Linked DNA regions of Homo sapiens: regions 2 and 3 are each reported to be linked to region 1. Evidence: microRNA targets listed by miRTarBase, many of them from high-throughput screens and not tested one by one. Region 1 holds a microRNA gene; each other region holds the end of a gene's coding sequence.
The links. The annotated mature microRNA hsa-miR-6765-3p reads UCACCUGGCUGGCCCGCCCAG and lies in region 1 at 1,287-1,307, shown strand. An mRNA with a match to its seed (bases 2 to 7 or 8) in the 3' UTR can be bound and repressed. Matches are read on the target gene's strand: a 7mer-m8 pairs with bases 2 to 8, a 7mer-A1 pairs with bases 2 to 7 and ends in A, and an 8mer does both.

Region 1 (4,149 bases):
CCCTGAGCATCCCACCCCTGCCCCCAGACCTGAACTACTGTGGCAGCCACCACCCCTGCACCAACGGAGGCACGTGCATCAACGCCGAGCCTGACCAGTACCGCTGCACCTGCCCTGACGGCTACTCGGGCAGGAACTGTGAGAAGGGTACGTGGGGGGCTGGCCACCCAAATTCTGGCCAGGCAGGGACTGGTTCCCTGGGGAGCCGGTCAGGCCCCATCCCTCTGGCGTCCTGTGTGGTGGGCCCCTGACCCCCAGCTTGGGAACCTGTGGGCTTGGGGAGGAGTGCTTGTGGAAAGCTGGGGGCCTGGCTGCCAGCTCTGCCCCCTCCCCGCGGTTCTACAGCTGAGCACGCCTGCACCTCCAACCCGTGTGCCAACGGGGGCTCTTGCCATGAGGTGCCGTCCGGCTTCGAATGCCACTGCCCATCGGGCTGGAGCGGGCCCACCTGTGCCCTTGGTGAGTGTCTGCACGTGAGTAGGGGACTCCTGCCTAGTATCAGTGGGGGTCTGGGAGTGGGGCAACTCGCTGGGGATGGGGTGCAGTGGTCAAGTCCACACGTGTGGCTGCGGCTGGCTTGGCGAGGACAAATGGCAGGAAGACCCAGGCTTGCAGCGCCACCTGCCCATGGGGACCTTATTCCCACGGCTCACACTGCCAGGGCCCCACCTTTCTCCACCCTCTGCAGACATCGATGAGTGTGCTTCGAACCCGTGTGCGGCCGGTGGCACCTGTGTGGACCAGGTGGACGGCTTTGAGTGCATCTGCCCCGAGCAGTGGGTGGGGGCCACCTGCCAGCTGGGTAAGGGCTCCGAGCGAGTGCATGGGAACGTGGGCCGCGCATGCGGGCTGCGGGGGCTGCTGGGGCTGCGGGGGCTGCTGGGGCTGCTGGGGCTGCTGGGCTGCGGGTGCCAGGTGCCCGTGCTGCAGGGGGCAGGCAGGGCCCGAGCCCCACGGCTCCCACCTTGTCTCTTTCACAGACGCCAATGAGTGTGAAGGGAAGCCATGCCTTAACGCTTTTTCTTGCAAAAACCTGATTGGCGGCTATTACTGTGATTGCATCCCGGGCTGGAAGGGCATCAACTGCCATATCAGTCAGTATGGGGGGTGGGCGCCGGCGGGTGGGCCGAGGCACATGGGACCCCGCCTCTGACCCTGCTCCTCTGCCCCCAGACGTCAACGACTGTCGCGGGCAGTGTCAGCATGGGGGCACCTGCAAGGTGAGGCGGGGCCAGGAGGGTGTGTGGCGTGGGTGCTGCGGGGCCGTCAGGGTGCCTGCGGGACGCTCACCTGGCTGGCCCGCCCAGGACCTGGTGAACGGGTACCAGTGTGTGTGCCCACGGGGCTTCGGAGGCCGGCATTGCGAGCTGGAACGAGACGAGTGTGCCAGCAGCCCCTGCCACAGCGGCGGCCTCTGCGAGGACCTGGCCGACGGCTTCCACTGCCACTGCCCCCAGGGCTTCTCCGGGCCTCTCTGTGAGGTGAGGTCTGCCTGGTCACCCTGCCCCACCTGCTGCTCTGGGAGCTGTAGGGCAGGCCTCGTCCCCTGACCATGGGGCCTGAGTGACCCAGGGGTGCTGCAGGGGAAGTTGTCCCCAAGGCGTCCCAGGCTCAGCTCTCCACTGGGTGCCAGGTGGGCAGGCGGGGCTGTCACAGGTCACCAGGCTTGGCCCCCTGTGGCCATTGCTTGTTGTGATGGGTTTCCTGGTGGCCTGGGCTAGGAGCCCCCGGGCTGCTGGCTGCCCAGGCCTATCTGTCCATCTGTGCACTCCCTCGGGACTGGAGGGCAGGGGGCTCTGGTGGGCAGAGCACATGGGGTAGGGTGGGTGCCTGATGGTGGAGAGGTATACACCTGTCATAGGTGAGTCCTGGGTCGGAGTGGGCATCTCTCTCAGGGCTGATGCTCTCGCCTCCCTCTGACCATCTGTTGGTACTGGACCCCCTCCCCCAACCTCCCCTTCCCCCCTGCCTCCAAAGTAACCTGCCTTCCCCCTTCCCCACCACCCCTACCACCCCCTTCCCCACCTCCCCCTTCCCCACCTCCCCCAACCCTGCCTCCCCCCACCCACCTCACTATCACCCCTCCCCTACCTCCCCCAACCCTGCCTCCCCCCACCCACCTCCCTACCACCCCCTTCCCCACCTCCCCCAACCCTGCCTCCCCCCACCCACCTCCCTACCACCCCCTTCCCCACCTCCCCCAACCCTGCCTCCCCATTACCTGCCTCCCTACCACCCCCTCCCCTTACTTCCCCTTTTTCCCTGCCTCCCCCCACCCACCTCCCTACCACCCTCGGCCGCCCACGATCCTGCCCTGGCCTTGGTGCAGAGGATGGGCCTCCTGTCCAGAGGGCTTCTTGGGGCCCAGGGCAGGGGTCTGACCTCAGGACCTGCAAGCATGGCAGTGGCTGGCCCTGGAAAAGACCCACAGTCTTGGCTCTGAGGGTGGCCAGGCAGTGTGTGAGGGGCTCAGGAGCTGTCCTTCCTGCCAGCAGCAGGGGCCAAGGCCACACTCCTCCCGAGGGACAGTGAGGAAGCTGGGCTGCAGTGGAGGTGGGGGTGGGGGCCCACAGGTATCTGCGTTCAGCTAAGGCCTGGGCAGTCTCAGGTGGGCAGGGGTCTTGGGCTCTGGCTGGCACTGTTAGGCCCAGGGCGGAGGGGCCTGGGGGTCCCCAGGGATCTACCTTCGTATGGACAGAGGCCTGGCCTGTGTTCCCGGCCTGGGCCTGGGCCTAGGCTCTCACAGGCACCCCCCACCCTGCAGGTGGATGTCGACCTTTGTGAGCCAAGCCCCTGCCGGAACGGCGCTCGCTGCTATAACCTGGAGGGTGACTATTACTGCGCCTGCCCTGATGACTTTGGTGGCAAGAACTGCTCCGTGCCCCGCGAGCCGTGCCCTGGCGGGGCCTGCAGAGGTGCTGGGTGCGGCATGGGGTGGTGGGGGAGGTGGTGGGGCAGGGGCGGGCCTGACTCCTGACTGTACTGCCTGCCATAGTGATCGATGGCTGCGGGTCAGACGCGGGGCCTGGGATGCCTGGCACAGCAGCCTCCGGCGTGTGTGGCCCCCATGGACGCTGCGTCAGCCAGCCAGGGGGCAACTTTTCCTGCATCTGTGACAGTGGCTTTACTGGCACCTACTGCCATGAGAGTGAGTGGCCACGAACGGCGGGCTGGTGGTGGGGCTGGGCTGGCCTGAGGCCCTGGCTCACCCCGCTCGCCTCTGCAGACATTGACGACTGCCTGGGCCAGCCCTGCCGCAATGGGGGCACATGCATCGATGAGGTGGACGCCTTCCGCTGCTTCTGCCCCAGCGGCTGGGAGGGCGAGCTCTGCGACACCAGTGAGTGTTCCAGCACCCGCCCACACGGCCTGTGCCTCCACCCCTGTGGGCCCCTTATCACCCTGAGATGGACCGCTGTCTGGGTGCGGCAGGCCCCGTACCCAGAAAGGCCTGGCCAGGGGGTGCTGCCACCATGGGGTGGAGTCCCAGGCTGCCCCCATGCCCGAGGCCAGCTCCCCCGGCCCGACGCTCCTCCCCCGCCCCTCTCTGTCCTCACCTGGCCCAGCTCCAGTGCTTCCTCCCCCGGGAAGCCCTCCCTGAGCGCCGGTGACCCCCCGCCCGCTGACCGGCGTCCTCGCCCCCAGATCCCAACGACTGCCTTCCCGATCCCTGCCACAGCCGCGGCCGCTGCTACGACCTGGTCAATGACTTCTACTGTGCGTGCGACGACGGCTGGAAGGGCAAGACCTGCCACTCACGTGAGTGTCCGCAGGCCCTGGCCGCCTGGGGCTGCCCCCAGGACCCTGGCCCTGGCGGTCTGGGGCCTGCCTGCTGAGCGGCCCATGTGCCAACAGGCGAGTTCCAGTGCGATGCCTACACCTGCAGCAACGGTGGCACCTGCTACGACAGCGGCGACACCTTCCGCTGCGCCTGCCCCCCCGGCTGGAAGGGCAGCACCTGCGCCGTCGGTGAGGAGCCCCCGCTGCCTCTGCGACCGCCGGGCATATGCCCTCCCAGGCACCGCTCCCTCGGGCGCGATGGGCCGAGGGGTCTTTTTTGAGGGCCACACCTGCCACCTGCCCCCTGCCCCCTGCCCCCGGGTCTGTCTGCCCTGTCTGGGTTGGGGGCGCGGTATGGAGACCCAGGGC
Region 2 (4,000 bases), not on the chromosome of region 1:
CTGAAGCCTTTCCAATTTCTGGGGATATCCAGATCCTCCTGGGTCGTGTGTTACACTACAGATACCATGGTGACCTTCTCTCCTTTCCTCCAGGCCTGCAGCTGGCCGCAGACATAGCCAGCCTCCAGAACCGCATTGACTGGGGTCGAAGCCAGCTCCGGGGACTCCAAGAGAAACTCAAGCAGCTGGAGCCTGGGGCTGCCTGACATGCGCGCAAAGAGGCAGGGCAGCGAGCACAGCTGTTCTCCGACATGGCTACGTGATCTCAGGCCTTCTTCCTTCACAATTAGCTCTTGCCCCTACCCCACGCCAGCTAATGCCCCTTCTGTGTCCCTGCTCTGCATGTTTCCATTTTCCTTAGGTGTGAAGTTTGAAGAGGCAAACAGTAATTTTGAAAGCCACTACTTTGAAACCATTCTAAGGCCTGAGTTCCCATAGGACACACTCACATAGGCAGGTACACGTTAGTCAACAATTGGAACTGCCTCTTGGATCACTCAGCTGTGCTTTCATGGCTGGATGATGGAACACTGTGCGAAGAGAGATGGGGGCCAGGAAGTAGCGCTTCATGCTTAGTACATCCTCCAAATTGTCTTTGCTGGAGGAGAAAACCGTACTCAGCCAAAAGATCAGGACAATATGACTTGAGTCCACAAGGACACAAACACCTGAGTAGCTGGGCAGCCCTTGGCAGGGTCTAAGCCAGGAAGTAAAAATGATCTGGCCTAGATATTTAAGGGAACTCTAGGAAGAGGCCTAGGTTTTTAAAATCCTGTCTCTTTGTCTTACCATAAGAGGCTGAGCCTCTCTTCATTTTTTTGAAGGGCCACTTGTGTTTTCTGTTCTGGGAACTTCATTCATTTTTCTACTGGGTTGTTGATCTTTGCAGTAATTTCTAGGAGCTGTTTATGTTTGGAGGTAATTGGTCCTTTGTCCATATATATGAGATGTAAGTCTTATTTTCCAGTTTATCTTTTTGCTTATTTTTTTTGACTTTTTATTGTAAAATAAAACATCAAACTGCACAGAACAGTTGAATAGCTTAATGAATAACTACAGTAAAAGCTATGGTAACCACTACCCAACTTTTGTGTTTTTTGATCATTATTTGTACGTACAGTTGAATGTATCCAGCTGTCACATGATTCTGAATTTGGGTTTGTAACTGATAAGGCAATCAGGGAATTCTCCAGCATTTTCAAGAACCTCTGTGGTTTCAGTTGAAATGTCCAGTGAGTCATGTCCAGCTTTTCCACCATCCTCCCACGTGCTGTATGTCGGTTAATGCTGCCCTTTTGTTTTGCTAACTCCCAGTGTAAACCTAATGTAATTTGGGGGTTTTCATTCTGTTTCGTGGACATTACTGTCAATACACCAGTACCACATTGTTTTACTTCTTGAACTTTAACATAATCCCTGTATGGCAGATTCGCGTTGGGTTGAGGGGTCGTTTATTGGCCCTGTTGACCTTGAGTTGCCAGGGAAAAGACTAATGGGGGAACTCAAATGGAACCCCTGTGACTGCAGGAAAAACGGGTATCTGCCCCCAAACCTCACCAAAGGTTGCCTTTTGTAACAAAGATCCTATCCACAAGGTTCCAGTTAGTGAGATTCTGAAGCCAAAGTAAGGAAAAAAATAAGTCAATTTTGCTGGGGCCACAAATTCTTCCAGGAGGAGGTGCGACCCCGTGGAGCACGCCCTTCGCTGCTGATTGTGGGCGGACACTGGGGTGGGCACGTGCCTCCCACTGCTGGCTTGGGGCTGGACTCACAGGTGGCCATCCTCCTATCAGGGCGAGGCCATGGGCTCTGCAAATAGGGTTGGATGAAGACAGCAAATCTTTAGCAAAGCATCCTTAACTTGCTGCCCTGACCTTCTGCCCTAACTCCAGCTCTTGGGGAGACCGCCAGGAAAGGGGATTCTGGCTTCTGTGGGGAAGTGGCTTGTCCCACCAGGGCTAAGTCGAGAGACTGGGTTCATGCAGCGAGTCTGGCACGGCTGCAGTCATACGAGTTTCTACAGGGACAGCAGGAGCTCAGTGCTGCGCAGTGGTAGTTGGGAGGCGCTGGCGGTGAAGCTGACGCATGTCACGTATACAGACACGGTGGCGTCACCTTTCAGCAGTTCCCATATGGTCTAGCGGTTAGGATTCCTGGTTTTCACCCAGGTGGCCCGGGTTCGACTCCCGGTATGGGAACAAAAGTGGCTTTTTTTTTTTTTTTTGCGGGTGTATATTTTTTTCTTTCAACTTGAAAATGTTCGCCAGAAGAACTTTGACTTTTCGCCACTAGAACGCTCCAGGCCAGATTGGGTATTTCCTCTTCACTTGAACTTGGAGAAACAGGCCCAGGGAGATCCGGGCCCCATCGCTGTGTGTTTTGATGGCAGTGACCATTTTCATCATGACATTAGCTAGTTGTTTTGACCATCAATAGCTTACTGAGTATATTAGATGCTATATACATCGCAGATGTGAATATTAGAAGTAGTGAAATGCCCGATAACATTGAAAATATTCAAAATGTGTTGCTGTGGAACCCCCAGCAGAAGGCAGATCCCCACTGGCCTCCATCACGCTCCAGCGCACTTGCTCAGGTTGGCAGGAGCCACCTCGGGTCCGTGAGCTGCCTCTGCAAGGCAGGGATAGGAAGTCCTAGGAAGTCTACTGGGAGCATAGCACTCTGGAAAAATTTACCTTTCTCTCTTGCTGCTGCTTTGTTTTGTCCAGTAGTCAGGGTTCCCGTTTTCTCACTGGGACAGTCCGGGCTTGACTCCACTCCCCCAGCAGAAAACCAACTTCAAACTTCAATGATGCCTTCGTGCCAGCACACAAACACATGTCCGGTGGAAAGGAGAACCCAGCTGGGTGAGGCGGCAGCTTCAGTCCCAGCTACTAAGGAGGCTGAGGCTGGAGGATCGCCTGAGCCCAGGAGGTTGAGGCTGCAGTGAGCCGAGGTCATGCCAGTACCCTCCAACCTGGGCTACAGAGTCAGACCTCTTAACTAAAAAAGACATTGTTTTTTGGCTTGCTCAATTAATCCAGGGAGATTGTATGTAAGGCTGAGGTCATGTCTTCAGCAATTACTGCCACACTCATTCATTCATTCATTCATACCTTTGTTTTTTATAATTATCACTAGTAAGCATACCAATGAAAATTTTTGTTCTGGCACATAAAGAGCTTCAAAATCATCACTTCCATCCTTACAACAAGAAAAAAGCTGAACGAACTGGAAAATCAACAACTCTTCGATTCCTCAGAAAATTGAGGTCACGTGGCAAACCACTCCCCTGAAAATGAGAAGGAAAGGCAAATACAGAGCTACAGCTTGCCAGGCACAGAAGCTGCTGCTGCAGCCAGCAACCTGTAGGAAAACTTAAAGGGTAACTGACTAACTGCTAGAGCCTGGGCATGTAAGCATAAGAGAGAAAAGATGCTGGGGACATAGCCTTAAGGGGCCCCCACAGTCTCATGGGTTTTAGCTCCAGGAATTCTATCTTGTTCTTGGGTGAAAATCAGAGAAAAATCTGCTGGAGCTTCTGGCAAGGGGAGGAAAGTGTAACCACTTTGAAATGCACACATAACGTCCTGTCCTCTTTAACAAAGGCTTAAAGTCAGAGCAACTACCAGAGCCTACCCAACCCAAGGGAAGGAAAATATCCACCTCCAGTCTGCTTTAGTCTTCCAACTCACATTAAAAAAAAGCTGAGAAGCACTTGTGAGTGGCACAGCCTAGGGACCACTGGTTCACAACAAGACTGGGCCCTGATCATGGGTTTATAGACCACTCCCTGCTGTCCCCACATCTTACTGCCACATCACTTAGGGCTCCTATATATTAACAAGGGATTGCAGCTGAAAGAACTGCAAGGCCCAGAATTTATGTAAGAAGCAGTCTCTAGGGAAACCCAAAGGCAACAGGGGATGCAAAAACAAGGACACTAGAGGAAATTTTAGCCTCTGACATTTACAGCTACAGCAAACAAGAAACACAGCCT
Region 3 (4,000 bases), not on the chromosome of region 1:
CCAGAGGGCCAGGAGGGAGGAAGGGAGAGGAGGTGTTTTATTTTTTTGCTTTTATTTTTTATTTTGAGACAGAGTCTCTCTCTGTCACCCAGGTTGGAGTGCAGTGCTGTGATCTTGGCTCACTGCAACTTCTGCCTCCTGGGTTCAAGCAATTCTTATGCCTCAGCCTCAGCCTCCTGAGTAGCTGGGATTACAACACTATGCCCGGGTAATTTTTGTATTTTTAGTAGAGACGAGGTTTCGCCATGTTGCCCAGACTGGTCTCGAACTCCTGACCTCAAGTGATCCACCCGCCTTGGCCTCCCCACGTGCTGGGATTGCAGGCGTGAGCCACTGCGCCCGCCTTGATCTTTACACAAGGGGTTTAGGGTAGGTAGCCTTCTCTGAACCAGGAGAACAGCCTGTGCGAAGGCCCTGAGGCTGGACCGTGCCTGTTGGGTTTGAGGCCGTTGTAGCTGGAGCAAACAGAGAGAGGGGTAAAAAGGCAGGAGGCTACCAGGCAGGTTGTGCAGAGCCTTGTGGGCCACTGGGGAGGACTTTGGCTTTTGCCCTGAGAGCGGTGGGAAGTGACTGAATCCGGTACTCACCGTCTCCCTCTGGCGGCTCCTGGGGGAACATGCTTGGGGATCAGGCTGGGGGAGGCTGCCAGGCCCAGGAGGTGAGAAGTAGGTGGCCTCCAGCCGTGTTTCCTGAATGCTGGACTGATAGTTTCCGCTGTTTACCATTTGTTGGCAGAGACAGATGGTCAGTCTGGAGGATGACGTGGCGTGAACATCTGCCTGGAGTCCCGTCCCTGCCCAGAACCCTTCCTGAGACCTCGCCGGCCTTGTTTTATTCAAAGACAGAGAAGACCAAAGCATTGCCTGCCAGAGCTTTGTTTTATATATTTATTCATCTGGGAGGCAGAACAGGCTTCGGACAGTGCCCATGCAATGGCTTGGGTTGGGATTTTGGTTTCTTCCTTTCCTCGTGAAGGATAAGAGAAACAGGCCCGGGGGGACCAGGATGACACCTCCATTTCTCTCCAGGAAGTTTTGAGTTTCTCTCCACCGTGACACAATCCTCAAACATGGAAGATGAAAGGGGAGGGGATGTCAGGCCCAGAGAAGCAAGTGGCTTTCAACACACAACAGCAGATGGCACCAACGGGACCCCCTGGCCCTGCCTCATCCACCAATCTCTAAGCCAAACCCCTAAACTCAGGAGTCAACGTGTTTACCTCTTCTATGCAAGCCTTGCTAGACAGCCAGGTTAGCCTTTGCCCTGTCACCCCCGAATCATGACCCACCCAGTGTCTTTCGAGGTGGGTTTGTACCTTCCTTAAGCCAGGAAAGGGATTCATGGCGTCGGAAATGATCTGGCTGAATCCGTGGTGGCACCGAGACCAAACTCATTCACCAAATGATGCCACTTCCCAGAGGCAGAGCCTGAGTCACTGGTCACCCTTAATATTTATTAAGTGCCTGAGACACCCGGTTACCTTGGCCGTGAGGACACGTGGCCTGCACCCAGGTGTGGCTGTCAGGACACCAGCCTGGTGCCCATCCTCCCGACCCCTACCCACTTCCATTCCCGTGGTCTCCTTGCACTTTCTCAGTTCAGAGTTGTACACTGTGTACATTTGGCATTTGTGTTATTATTTTGCACTGTTTTCTGTCGTGTGTGTTGGGATGGGATCCCAGGCCAGGGAAAGCCCGTGTCAATGAATGCCGGGGACAGAGAGGGGCAGGTTGACCGGGACTTCAAAGCCGTGATCGTGAATATCGAGAACTGCCATTGTCGTCTTTATGTCCGCCCACCTAGTGCTTCCACTTCTATGCAAATGCCTCCAAGCCATTCACTTCCCCAATCTTGTCGTTGATGGGTATGTGTTTAAAACATGCACGGTGAGGCCGGGCGCAGTGGCTCACGCCTGTAATCCCAGCACTTTGGGAGGCCGAGGCGGGTGGATCATGAGGTCAGGAGATCGAGACCATCCTGGCTAACACGTGAAACCCCGTCTCTACTAAAAATACAAAAAATTAGCCGGGCGTGGTGGCGGGCACCTGTAGTCCCAGCTACTCGGGAGGCTGAGGCAGGAGAATGGTGTGAACCCGGGAAGCGGAGCTTGCAGTGAGCCGAGATTGCGCCACTGCAGTCCGCAGTCTGGCCTGGGCGACAGAGCGAGACTCCGTCTCAAAAAAAAAAAACAAAAAAAAACCATGCATGGTGCATCAGCAGCCCATGGCCTCTGGCCAGGCATGGCGAGGCTGAGGTGGGAGGATGGTTTGAGCTCAGGCATTTGAGGCTGTCGTGAGCTATGATTATGCCACTGCTTTCCAGCCTGGGCAACATAGTAAGACCCCATCTCTTAAAAAATGAATTTGGCCAGACACAGGTGCCTCACGCCTGTAATCCCAGCACTTTGGGAGGCTGAGCTGGATCACTTGAGTTCAGGAGTTGGAGACCAGGCCTGAGCAACAAAGCGAGATCCCATCTCTACAAAAACCAAAAAGTTAAAAATCAGCTGGGTACGGTGGCACGTGCCTGTGATCCCAGCTACTTGGGAGGCTGAGGCAGGAGGATCGCCTGAGCCCAGGAGGTGGAGGTTGCAGTGAGCCATGATCGAGCCACTGCACTCCAGCCTGGGCAACAGATGAAGACCCTATTTCAGAAATACAACTATAAAAAAATAAATAAATCCTCCAGTCTGGATCGTTTGACGGGACTTCAGGTTCTTTCTGAAATCGCCGTGTTACTGTTGCACTGATGTCCGGAGAGACAGTGACAGCCTCCGTCAGACTCCCGCGTGAAGATGTCACAAGGGATTGGCAATTGTCCCCAGGGACAAAACACTGTGTCCCCCCCAGTGCAGGGAACCGTGATAAGCCTTTCTGGTTTCGGAGCACGTAAATGCGTCCCTGTACAGATAGTGGGGATTTTTTGTTATGTTTGCACTTTGTATATTGGTTGAAACTGTTATCACTTATATATATATATATACACACATATATATAAAATCTATTTATTTTTGCAAACCCTGGTTGCTGTATTTGTTCAGTGACTATTCTCGGGGCCCTGTGTAGGGGGTTATTGCCTCTGAAATGCCTCTTCTTTATGTACAAAGATTATTTGCACGAACTGGACTGTGTGCAACGCTTTTTGGGAGAATGATGTCCCCGTTGTATGTATGAGTGGCTTCTGGGAGATGGGTGTCACTTTTTAAACCACTGTATAGAAGGTTTTTGTAGCCTGAATGTCTTACTGTGATCAATTAAATTTCTTAAATGAACCAATTTGTCTAAACTCGATGCACGTTCTTCTGTTCGCGCGCTTCTTTTTGTTTTTTTTTTTTTCCTGAGATGGAGCCTGGCTCTGTCACCCCTGGCTGGAGTGCAGTGGCATGATCTCGGCTTACTGCAAGCTCCGCCTCCCAGGTTCAAGCAATTCTCCTGCCTCAGCCTCCCTAGTAGCTAGGATTACAGGTGAGTGCCACCACGCCTGGCCAATTTTTTTTTTTTTTTTTTTTTTGAGACAGAGTCTCGCTCTGTCACCCAGGCTGGAGTGCAGTGGTGTGATCTCGGCTCACTGCAAGCTCTGCCTCCCAGGTTAATGCCATTCTCCTGTCTCAGCCTCCTGAGTAGCTGGGGCCACAGGCGCCTGCCACCACGCCCGGCTAATTTTTTTTTGTACTTCTTTTAGTACAGACGGGGTTTCACCATGTTAGCCAGGATGGTCTCGATCTCCTGACCTTGTGATCCACCTGCTTCGGCCTCCCAAAGTGCTGAGATTACAGGCGTGAGCCACCGCGGGTGGCCAACGCTAATTTTTTTGTTTTTTTAGATGGAGTCTTGCTCTGTCGCCCAGGCTGGAGTGCAGTGGCGTGATCTCTGCCTACTGCAAGCTCCGCCTCCCGGGTTCATGCCATTCTCCTGCCTCAGCCTCCTGAGTAACTGGGACTACAGGCACCCGCCACCACGCCCGGCTAATTTTTTGTATTTTTAGTAGAGACAGGGTTTCA

Region 2: miRTarBase lists VMA22 as a target of hsa-miR-6765-3p. The part of its 3' UTR that is shown has no 7-base or 8-base seed match.
Region 3: miRTarBase lists LDLR as a target of hsa-miR-6765-3p. Seed matches in the 3' UTR shown: 7mer-m8 at 1,509-1,515.

What each region holds. Positions count from the first base shown.
Region 1 is chr14:105,147,936-105,152,084 of GRCh38, reverse strand. It overlaps MIR6765 (microRNA 6765), which reads left to right and starts at 1,221; the gene lies at 1,221-1,307. It overlaps JAG2 (jagged canonical Notch ligand 2), which reads left to right. Exons shown (of 26, transcript NM_002226.5): 7 at 28-147; 8 at 346-459; 9 at 689-802; 10 at 981-1,094; 11 at 1,174-1,220; 12 at 1,308-1,481; 13 at 2,765-2,915; 14 at 2,996-3,148; 15 at 3,227-3,340; 16 at 3,646-3,759; 17 at 3,856-3,969.
Region 2 is chr2:130,335,326-130,339,325 of GRCh38, reverse strand. It overlaps VMA22 (vacuolar ATPase assembly factor VMA22), which reads left to right. Exons shown (of 5, transcript NM_032357.4): 5 at 94-1,393. The coding sequence ends at 206. It overlaps TRE-TTC1-1 (tRNA-Glu (anticodon TTC) 1-1), which reads left to right and starts at 2,127; the gene lies at 2,127-2,198. RefSeq lists an enhancer at 2,340-2,399.
Region 3 is chr19:11,130,546-11,134,545 of GRCh38, forward strand. It overlaps LDLR (low density lipoprotein receptor), which reads left to right. Exons shown (of 18, transcript NM_000527.5): 18 at 736-3,275. The coding sequence ends at 771. Among named protein-coding and RNA genes, the nearest start is that of MIR6886, 19 kb to the left of the region's middle.